Linked DNA regions of Homo sapiens. The protein of the gene in region 2 interacts with the protein of the main gene of each other region in a pairwise test. Each region holds a gene or a part of one and is shown on either strand. Other genes may lie near its edges.

Region 1 (4,387 bases), on a different chromosome or scaffold from region 2:
CAGCCTGGGTGAGAGTGAGACCCTGTCTCAAAAAGCGTGTGTGTACACACACACAAACTTCTGTTCAGCAAAAGATTCAATTAAGAGAACAGGTAAGCCCTAAACTACAAGAAAATAGTCACAAAAAATATTCGTATATCTGACAAAGAACTTCTATCCAGAATATACAAAGAATTCCTATAATCCATTTACAAAAAGACAAGTTTATTTTTAAAATGAACAAAAAGCGCCTGTAATCCCAGCTACTTGAGAGGCTGAGGTGGGAGGACTGCTTAAGCCCAGGAGGTTGCAGCTGCCATGAGCCATGATTATGCCACCGCATTCCAGCGTAGGTGACGGAGTGAGACTCTGTGTCAAAAAAATAAATAAATAAGGAAAGAAAGACTTTAACAGACACTACACAAATGAACACAACTTTATGAAAAGATGCTCCTCATCTTTAGTCATCAGGTAATGTGATTAAAGCCGCAAAGAGCTACTACCAGACACAAAAGAGAATGGTTAAAATTAAAAAGACTAACAATACCACATGCTGGGGTTTGGAAATGACTGGCATTTCTTATGAAGTTAAGCATACATCTACTCTTATTATCCAGCAATTCTACTTCTAGGTATCTCCCCAAGAGACCTATTTATTTACCCAAGAAAAATAACATAGTTCCAAAAAAAGATCTGCATAAGAATGGTCATAGCAGTTTTATCCCTGTTTTTTTTTTTTTTTTTTTTTTTTTGAGAAGGAGTCTCACTCTGTCGCCAGGCTGGAGTGCAGTGGCACAATCTCAGCTCACTGCAACCTCCACCTCCCGGATTCAAGTGATTCTCTTGCCTCAGCCTCCCAAGTAGCTGGGAATACAGGCACACGCCACTACGCCCAGCTAATTTTTGTATTTTTAGTAGAGACGGGGTTTCACCATGTTGGCCAGGATGGTCTCGATCTCTTCACCTTGTGATCCACCTGCCTCAGCCTCCCAAAGTGCTGGGATTACAGGCTTGTGCCACCACGCCCAGCCAGCAGTTTTATTCCTAATAGCCCAAAGCTGGAAACAAATTTTGATATATTCATACAACTGAGTATCACTGGAAAATGAAAAGGAAACCAGTGGTATCTGCAATAACATGGATGAACCTAAAAACTGATATGCTGAGCGAAAGAAGCCAGACACACAATCTATGAGTCCATCTGTATGAAATACAAGAACAAGCAAAATTAATCCATGATGACAAAATTCAAATGGTGGCTGCCCAGGAAGGGATGAGGAGAAATATGAGGATAGGCTGAGAAGGGGTACTGGGGAAATTTCCTTTTTCTCTTTTTTTTCAACTTTTAAGTTCAGGGATACAGCTGCAGGATGACAGGTTTGTTACATAGGGAAACGTGTGTCGTGGTGGTTTACTTCACAGATCATCCCATCACCCAGCTATTGAGCCCAGCATCCATTCGCTATTCTTCCTGATGCTCTCAGGGAAATTTCTTTGGTGACGAAAATGTTCTATTTCTTTATAAGGGCAATGGTTATATGCTTGTATGTATTTGTCAAAATGCATTAAATGTTATACTTAAGATATGAGCTTTTCAAAAAATTAATGAAAACTTCCATTCAGCAGCAATAATCTGCTCACTTTACTTTTCCATTGTTGCCTACAATAATGCAATTAGTCAAACTCTATTCTAGTGAATGCAGTACAGTGGTATTTTTCTAGCTTTGTTCTGTCCTCTTACCTTGTTAACTTCTGGTGTGAGGATCTCTATTTTCCTTAAACGTTGAAAAGCATCATAATCAGTCTCTCCAAATAGTCTGATTGGTTCTCCTCTTTCTCTCAATCTTCTGATGACCTACAAAGTGAAACAGATACCCAGTAAATTTTTTTTTTTTTTTTTTTTTTTGAGACAGTCTCACTCTGTTGCCCAGGCTGGAGTGCAGTGGTGCGATCTCGGCTCACTGCAAGCTCCGCCTCCCAGGTTCAAGCGATTCTCCTGCCTCAGCCTCCCGAGTAGCTGGGACTACAGGCGCCCGCCACCACACCCAGCTAACTTTTGTATTTTTAGTAGAGATGGGGTTTCACCATGTTGGCCAGGATGGTCTCAGTCTCCTGCCCTTGTGATCCGCCTGCCTCGGGCTCCCAAAGTGCTGGGATTACAGGCGTGAGCTAATGTGCCCAGCTATTAAACTTTTGAGAGAGGAAAAAACTAAACATCTCAAAAACAATTTGTATATTGTACCTTAAAAGCCAAGCCTGGGTTTAATAAAAGCTAATTATCCAAATACATGCCTCTGTGTAAAGTATAAAATCCTTCAAATATTTTAGATCATTTCAATTAAGCTAAACAAAGATGTTTCCAAATCAAAGAGAAAATCAAGTACTTTAAAAATCTATTTTGACTCAAAAGTCACTGTTATTAATTTTATCACTGAACAGCTCCTAGAAAGTGGTCTGACCTATGACTCTACAATTCAAGTCTAAAGAAAGACCCTAATATAAACCACCTCTTTTACTGTGAGATTTTTAAAAAATTCTTTTTTGTAAGAAAAGGGGCATGTCTGTGGCCCTCATTTTACATAATTATAACTGTTCTTAGTCTTCTTTTAAAAACAATGGAAAGACAATAGTAATCCCTTATGTCAGCATATTTTTGGTGATCAAACACTTGTTTTGAAATGTAGATGAAAAAAGTAATCTGTTTATTCTTTTAATTTTCCATAAACAGATATACTGTGTTACCATCACACCTTAAGTAACCATAAAGTTTAGGTCGTTTAGCTCACTGCTTCGATAGGACCAATCTGTGTGGCAGGACACACAGGAAAAACACTAAGATGGGAGGGAATGACAGCATTTATAGAGAGAAGGAAAATCAAATCTGAAGCCAGCTGATAATTACCATAATGGACAGTCTGCATTGTAATACCACCATGAAACCAAAAACTTCTCCCTCAGAAAACAGGGAGTTATAATCTGCATATGCAGAGCTTTTAAGATGCTGAAAATCTATTTCCAAACTTGGGTGATGGTTACATGAATATTTATTTTATAATTATTCATATATGTGTAACAAACATATATTGCCCTAACATGGTTCATACACTTTATATACATGCTATGTATGTCATTTTAAAAAGGAAGAAAGAAACAGAAAACGTAATAAATACTAGTCCAAATTTTTTAAATAAAGCAATAATGAGAAACACCAAGAGCTTTACCTGGGAGCATAAATAGCATCACACCTAAAATCCATTGAGAGGGCTCCCAGTGGATTAACAGAAGTTTGAGATTAAAACAGAAATTTAAGAGGTCATCTAGTGCTATCTCCAATCAATGCAGAAATGACCTCACAAACACCCTTGTCAGATCCCTGGCTGACAAATGGCAGGAATCACATTTCTTCGTGAAACATCCCATCCCATTGTTTAGACAGAGATGTTTTGCTTCTCAAAACTGAAATCTACTTCCCCCAAACTTCTACCCATTTATCCCAGTTCCACTTTATGAAACTACAGAGAATATTCTGATTTTCCAAAATCAGAGCTACTTTCATTGGATTTTTAAAGATATCTCTAGTAATTCTTCTCTCCAGCCTCACTATTCTAAATTCCTTCACCTCATCTTCATATGATGGTTTCTAGAGTCAGTCACCATTCCCCTGAAAATTTCCTTTTATGCAATGTCCGTCATAAACATGTGGTAATGTAGAACTAAATAATAATACTACAAACATGTCAACTTGCGAGAAGTACAGAATACATAAGCCTTTGATCTAGACGCTTTATTTCTATGACTTACATTCAGTCCTATCCACAACTACAGAGGTCGAACAGGAAGAGACTACTGAGGACTCAAAGATGAAAGATGACCCTAAGTCAGTCAGTCAAAGACAAAAACAACCTCGACAGAAAAAAGAAAGGGAATGTGAGCTAGTTATTACTGTAAAACACTGCTTAAGATTGGGTGCTATAACTTAGGCCAAGTTGTGAGGAGTGCATAATATTTTTCTGGTTATCAGTTTAAATAGCTAACTCTCATCTACCTGGAATTATATAACAGTGGTTCTGTCTAAAGGCAAGGTAATAAACTACCTGACTTCGAAATTTCTTTTAGTGCAAGAATTCTATTATTCTAATTTTTTAAATAAAGAAGCTGAAATATACCACCACCACCACCACCACCACCACCTCCCCCAAAAAATGACACAGAGACTAAAGGGACATCAGTGAAAGAACTTAAGCCTCTGAGTCCTCTTTTACTATTTCAATAGACGCTCGCTGAGCAAAGGCAGGAACTTCTTCCCCATATCATGTCTACTACTTAACTGATGTACCACTATTAATCAGTAACAATGGTTTACTAATGATGGATCTCACAAAAAGAACAACTTCTTAAAACTACGTCG
Region 2 (5,923 bases):
CCCATAGCACAACCCATCACCCTCACAACCGCCCTGCAAGCTCCCCTGAACAGTGTGACCTCCTGTCCATCCAGCAGCCTCTTTATGAGTGAGCTGCAGGACAAGCTCCGGCGCCCCGAGGACACTCACATGAGGAAGCAGGAAAGCGCTTCAGTGTCAGGACTCTGGGGAAGGTGCCTCCGGGCCAGGGGCTTGTAGTGCTGCCAGAGTCGGAAGTTCTCATAGACACTCTTGGGTTTACAGGAGTCGTCCGGCCGGGCCTTGGCCTGGGAGGGAGCCAGGCTGCCCTCTCCATGAGCCCCTTGTGGCCATGGCCTAGCGTTCCCTGGGGACACGATGGGGGCCACCTGGGCAGCCGGTGGTGGTGGTGGAAGAGGAAGGCCATGGGACCAGCCTCCCTCACAGGCCTGGGTGCCCCCAACCACCTGGGCAGAGGTAACGGGCACCCCAGGAGCAGCTGCCAGGAGTAGGGGAGGTGGACACATGACACCTCCACAGAGGGTGCCTGGAGCCTGCCAGACGAGGGGGGCCTGAGTTAGGATCAAGGTCTGTGCCTGAGGGGGCTTCACAGGCCCCACTTCTGTCCTCATCTGGACAAAGACGTTGGAAGCCCCGGCCCCACTCGGGCCGCGGCCATCCTGTCCTGCCACTAGAGGGGTGCTGGGGAAGGCAGAGAGCACCAGAGGGCCGGCTGGAGGAACCACTGCAGTCACGAGGGGCGGCCTGTGTGCTGGGCCGGGAGCGGGTGTGGCAAAGGGCAGAGCCGTGAACACAGACAGGGAGGTGCCAGGGTTCACGGTCACGCCGGGTCCCAGCACTGGGTATGCTGTGGAGACAAAGGAAAGAGGTGAATGAGCTGGCGTCTCCAGGTCCACACTAGTCACTGGGGAATCAGGGGAGTCCCAACAGCTGAGGGCATGTGACAGGGAAACTCTGCAGCTTGCAAGTGTCCCTGAGTGTGCATCAGATGCTCTGTTCCTCCACGGCAGAGTCGCTCCACTAGAGAGCCTGGCGCCAGTCACCAAGACTCCCTGACCCTTGTCTGCCAAGAAGAAACAGCCAAGCCTTTGCTGTCTCTGAGGGTCTCCCTCGGGTGTCCCTGGCAGACTGCACCAGCCTCACAGGCATCTCCCAAGCCATGGGTCAGGGATGAGTCTCTCGGTGGCTTGGTGGCTCTCAGTGTGCTCAGCAGCAGGTGAGGGGCCTACCCCAGGGCAGTGCTCGGCATTCAGAAGGCCGACAGGAAACCAGAAGTTTCCGAATATTATGGCCCCATCTCCTCTTCAGTCTTCCTTTCCCTGAAGCTCTTGTAAACCCCTTTCTTTCCTAGCTCAACACAACAAAAGAAAACCACTGGATAGGCCGGGCGTGCTGGTTCATGCCTGTCATCCCAGCGCTTTGGGAGGCCCAGGCGGGTGGATCACCTGAGGTCAGGAGTTGAAGACCAGTCTGGCCAACGTGGTGAAACCCCGTCTCTACTAAAATACAAAAATTAGCTGATGGTGCGTGCCTGTAATCCCAGCTACTCAGGAGGCTGAGACAGGAGAATTGCTTGAACCGAGGAGGCAGAGGCTGCAGTGAGCCGAGATCGTGCCACTTCATTCCAGCCCGGGTGACAGAGCGAGACTCCGTCTCAAAAAAAAAAAAAAAAAAAAAAAAGAAAACCACTGGATGGAAACTCACCCAAGCCAGTGCCCTAGGAACCCTGAAGATAACCCATAACACATCACGCCCAGCATGCAAGTGATTGTCCTGGCACCACCCACACAAGTGTTAAATAGGGGTCAGATTCAGGCCACCCATTCCTCAGTGCTCAGTGGTCCCAGCTGCCACTCAGGAAGCTCAGTTCCCAGGGAGCAGATCTGAGAAGCAGTGGTGGAGTCCCCTGAGATATTGTCATTGTGTAGCCAGCAACAGCTGCACATGACTAGAACACAGCCAGCAAATGGTGAGCAGCAGGGCTATCAGGGGAGGTGTCTAGGGATTTTCTTTTTTTTCTTTTTTTTTTTTTTTGAGACGGAGTCTCGCTCTGTCACCCAGGCTGGAGTGCAGTGGTGCGATCTCAGCTCACTGCAACCTCTGCCTCCCAGGTTCAAGCACTTCTCCTGCCTCAGCCTCCTGAGTAGCTGGGATTACAGGCGCCCGCCACCATGCCCAGCCAATTTTTGTATTTTTAGTAGAGACGGGGTTTCACCATATTGGTCAGGCTGGTCTTGAACTCCTGACCTCGTGATCCACATGCCTTGGTCTCCCAAAGTGCTGGGATTACAGGCGTGAGCCACCGCGCCCGGCCAGGGATTTTCACAGCTGCTAGTCATGTTACACTAAATAGTGGGACAGGGAGCCCATCTCTGGTCCTTCTCCTTTGAGCTCCCAGTAACTGAACATAGGGACCAACGAAGAACCAGGGGTTCTTGGGCCACAGGCCAGGTGAGGCAGAGTTGTCTGGAACTCATCCCTGTTCACTAGGACCTCATGCAGTCTCTAGCCAAGGGGAATAAGGGATACAGCACATGCACCTCATCAGTCAGGACACACATCCTAGTTTGAATAATAATAATAATAGGACTGTCTTCCTATTTGTGCGCTACTCTCCTTCCTCTACTGAAAAGGAAACCAGCCTTTTCAGAGCCTTCCACTGAGAACCAGCAAGAATCCACACCTGTCGCCCGTTCATGAGGTAGTATAAATGGAACAGGAGCAAATTCTTCACCTCCACAGTAACACAAAGTACAGAGGACGGGCCATGAGCTAGCTGACGAGAGGAAGTGGGTCTGAAGACCTGAGCTTCCACCAAAGGGCAAACAATTCAGAACAACTCAGGAAACCCAGGCCCTGTGTTGCCTGAACTTCCCCATTCTGCCCCCACCCCTGTTAAATCAAAGCCAACAGCTACCTGAACTGACGGAGAAGCCATCTCTGGGGAGGAAGCTGAGAGGCTCTGGGCTGTGGCAGTTGCAGTGGCCCCCAGCCTTGCCCACCCAGAGGCTGTCACTACATGCTCTGTCACAGCCAACCCACCCAACAGTTTTCTGGCTGAGACCACTTCTCCCCACTCCTCTCTAAGAACTAGAAAACTCCAGTCCAAATCCCTCTAAACACTATGGAAGGGCACCTTCCAGGTGCCTGAAGACACGGCACAGGGCTCAGGCTTGCCCGTCATTCTCCCTGGGCCACCAGCACAACACGATCCCACCACTCCCTACAAACACAATGACGTGACCTGTCCCCCTCTAGAAAGGATCAACCCATCCTCTCCATCCTTTCCACTACACGGTGTATTCCCCCAGGCATCTTGGTCCGCCTCTAAGGAGCCCTCCTCCCTAACCACAGACTCAGGGTGCCATGGCCATCCCCAGGTGTGATGTCCCTGGGGACATCCAGTGCTCCCTCCCTCAACATCAGCCCTATAAGCTGTCCCCAGGGACAGTTCAAATTTGAATTCCCAAGGAGTTGAGGCAAGGCAGACTCGGATAATGCCCCATCCCTACAGGCTCACCTCCATTTGAAGCCATCCCCTCAGGCTGGGCACTGACCACCACTGTCTGGCAGCTTCCGCAATGAAAAAAGTCAAGGGCAGGACCCAGAGAGTGACCTGACTCAGCAGATCCTCCTGAGTCCAAGTGGAGCAGGGATAATTTGCATATAAACAGGTTTGGAACACAGGACCCCAGACATTCTGCAGAGGGGGAGGGGCAGTGGGCAGCCGGGCTTGGCGGGGGTGGGGGACATTCTGTGAAGGGCTCTGGCCAGTAGGCAAGAACCTGAGGTTCCCTTGGTTCAGTTGGTTGCCATCCAACTGGATGGCAGCAACACAGACAGTGTGCGCCTCTTTAGGCAACTTTTAAATTGTCCTTCTGACTCACAGCAAAAGCTTCTACCTGATGTCCCCTTTACTTCCATTCTTTATCAACAGACCTACTTTTGTGCCAATCAACCCATGCTCCTTCCCACTTTGGCTCTTTCCCACTCTTGATGAATTTCAACAGGGGCCACACTTACTTAACAAAATTCAGAACACGTTTTCAGTCTGAGAAACACAGGGGTTCTTAGGAAGGCAAGGGGACTGAGTGTTTGAAATCAGAATGGCCTCAGCTGATCCAGGCTATTAGGTGGCTGTGTGCTCATCATTGTTTAGGAAGCAGTCCTTGTGCCCCCAGGTCATGTATGTTGCTGGAATCTGTCCACACCAGTAGGCCAGCCTTACTTCCCGTCCCCTTTCTTAGGAAGACTCAGTCCAGGAAAGAGAGGCTATGTGACCTACAGCACCGAGACCAGAAATCCTTTCATTTTGTTTCCCAGCATATTGTGCTGGTGTTAAATGTTTATTTTGTATCTTTTACATGATTTTAACTTAACTAAGCAATACTTTTGCATGGTTCCAAATTCAAATTGTGCACAGTGGAATAGACAATGACCAGCCTTCCTCCCACCTCTTTTCTCTGGCCACCACATTTTCTTTCCTGGAGGAAATAGGTGTTATCTGATTCTTTTTCATCTTTCCAGAGATATATTATGCAATCAAAAGCATAATGAAGCTATTTTTGCTGTCTAAAAATATTTTCAGTTTTTTGGGGGTAAAAATTAATATATTAATATGTTCTAGTATTCTTCTGATATTTGCAGTGACTGTATTTGTCCCAGTAATGTGGTTCCTCTCTTTATTTCTGTAGGTAAATTGCTAGAATGAGATGTTGGACTGTTTTTTAAAATTAAAAATACATGAAAGAACATAGTGGCCAGATTTAGCAAGTATGAATAAAGAATACCAAGTGGAATTTGAATTGAAGATAAACAGTGAATTAGTTTTTACTATAATTATGATCCATATGACATTTAGAGTACACTTTTACAAAAAAAAAAATCTGTCCTTTATCTGTGCTATTCACATTTCACTGGGATCTTGCACTTTATCTGGTAACTCTTCCCAAAAAAGTGTAACATATTAGGCAATTATTGTTAACTCTCCACTGTGAGAGTGCGAACTTGCAGTAAGGAGACTCAAGTGTGAATCTTGGCTGCACCACAAAAAGATTCTGCACCACAACCATTGCAGAAAACAATAGCAGGCTGATTTGATGAAAGGAAGTCAGGAGTAGCCATTATACCGTTCTCAGCTTCCAGGTTTAGTGGCAGTACGCACAGTTTTAAGGGACAGGAGAGCAGAACACCGTCTTTTTCTTTCCTAACATAAAGTGGCTTACAATTCCTAGAACTCTGGTTTCTCCAGGAGTTAGAAATCCACAACCCACGTCCATTCTGAGACAAGCAAGGATGCTAACCACCAATGTCCCATCCCCATTCTCATGCATCCCCTTGCATGTGTGAATCCTGGTTGGAGTCTCTCAGCTCGTTGCTGTCCTCATCTTCATCACAAGTGTCATCACATGTGGTTCTCAGCATGGGAATTATTGTAGCCTGTCTTTAAAAAAATCTTCATTCTCATTTTCACACAGAATTGCTGTTTATCAGCGTCAAAATGACAGGAAAGAGCACTCATGTTCTGTGTTGTGAACAAGGGGAGTGTTAGGAAACTGGTCAAAGGAGATGAGGAGTGAGTACTCAGAGCACAGCAAGAAAATCTGAGACACAGATGTCACTCCCTGCTGGGCAGCAGTCTTTTGCACTGATGGGTGGGTGTTGGGGAAGGGAAGAGGCCTTCAGCCGGACCAGTGCACACTGTGAACATTCACTGAAACACACCCTGTTGGCACTTAAGAAGCATTTGCCCCTTTCAAAGACATTTGGACTCAAGAAGGCAGAGTTGCAGAAAACGTAACGGGCCACACTGCAGGGGCAGGCAGTGGATTGCAAGTCTCAAGCCCAGGGTTCTCCCCTCCTTGCCTGGGTTGTGTGAAAAAGTCATTTCCTAACTCCTATCCGATATCCTCATGAGTTCTCGGTTTTGTCCCAACTCTAAAAC

Evidence for each region.
Region 1: the proteins of NUTM2F (region 2) and PRPF18 interact in a two-hybrid assay, tested with the Homo sapiens proteins (one large-scale study listed by BioGRID).

The regions. Positions count from the first base shown.
Region 1 is NC_000010.11:13,603,078-13,607,464, reverse strand, and holds part of PRPF18 (pre-mRNA-splicing factor 18), read right to left. Parts: intron 1,835-4,387; coding exon 1,721-1,834; intron 1-1,720.
Region 2 is NC_000009.12:94,325,109-94,331,031, forward strand, and holds the start of NUTM2F (NUT family member 2F), read right to left. Parts: upstream 3,537-5,923; 5' UTR 3,516-3,536; coding exon 3,500-3,515; intron 827-3,499; coding exon 130-826; intron 1-129.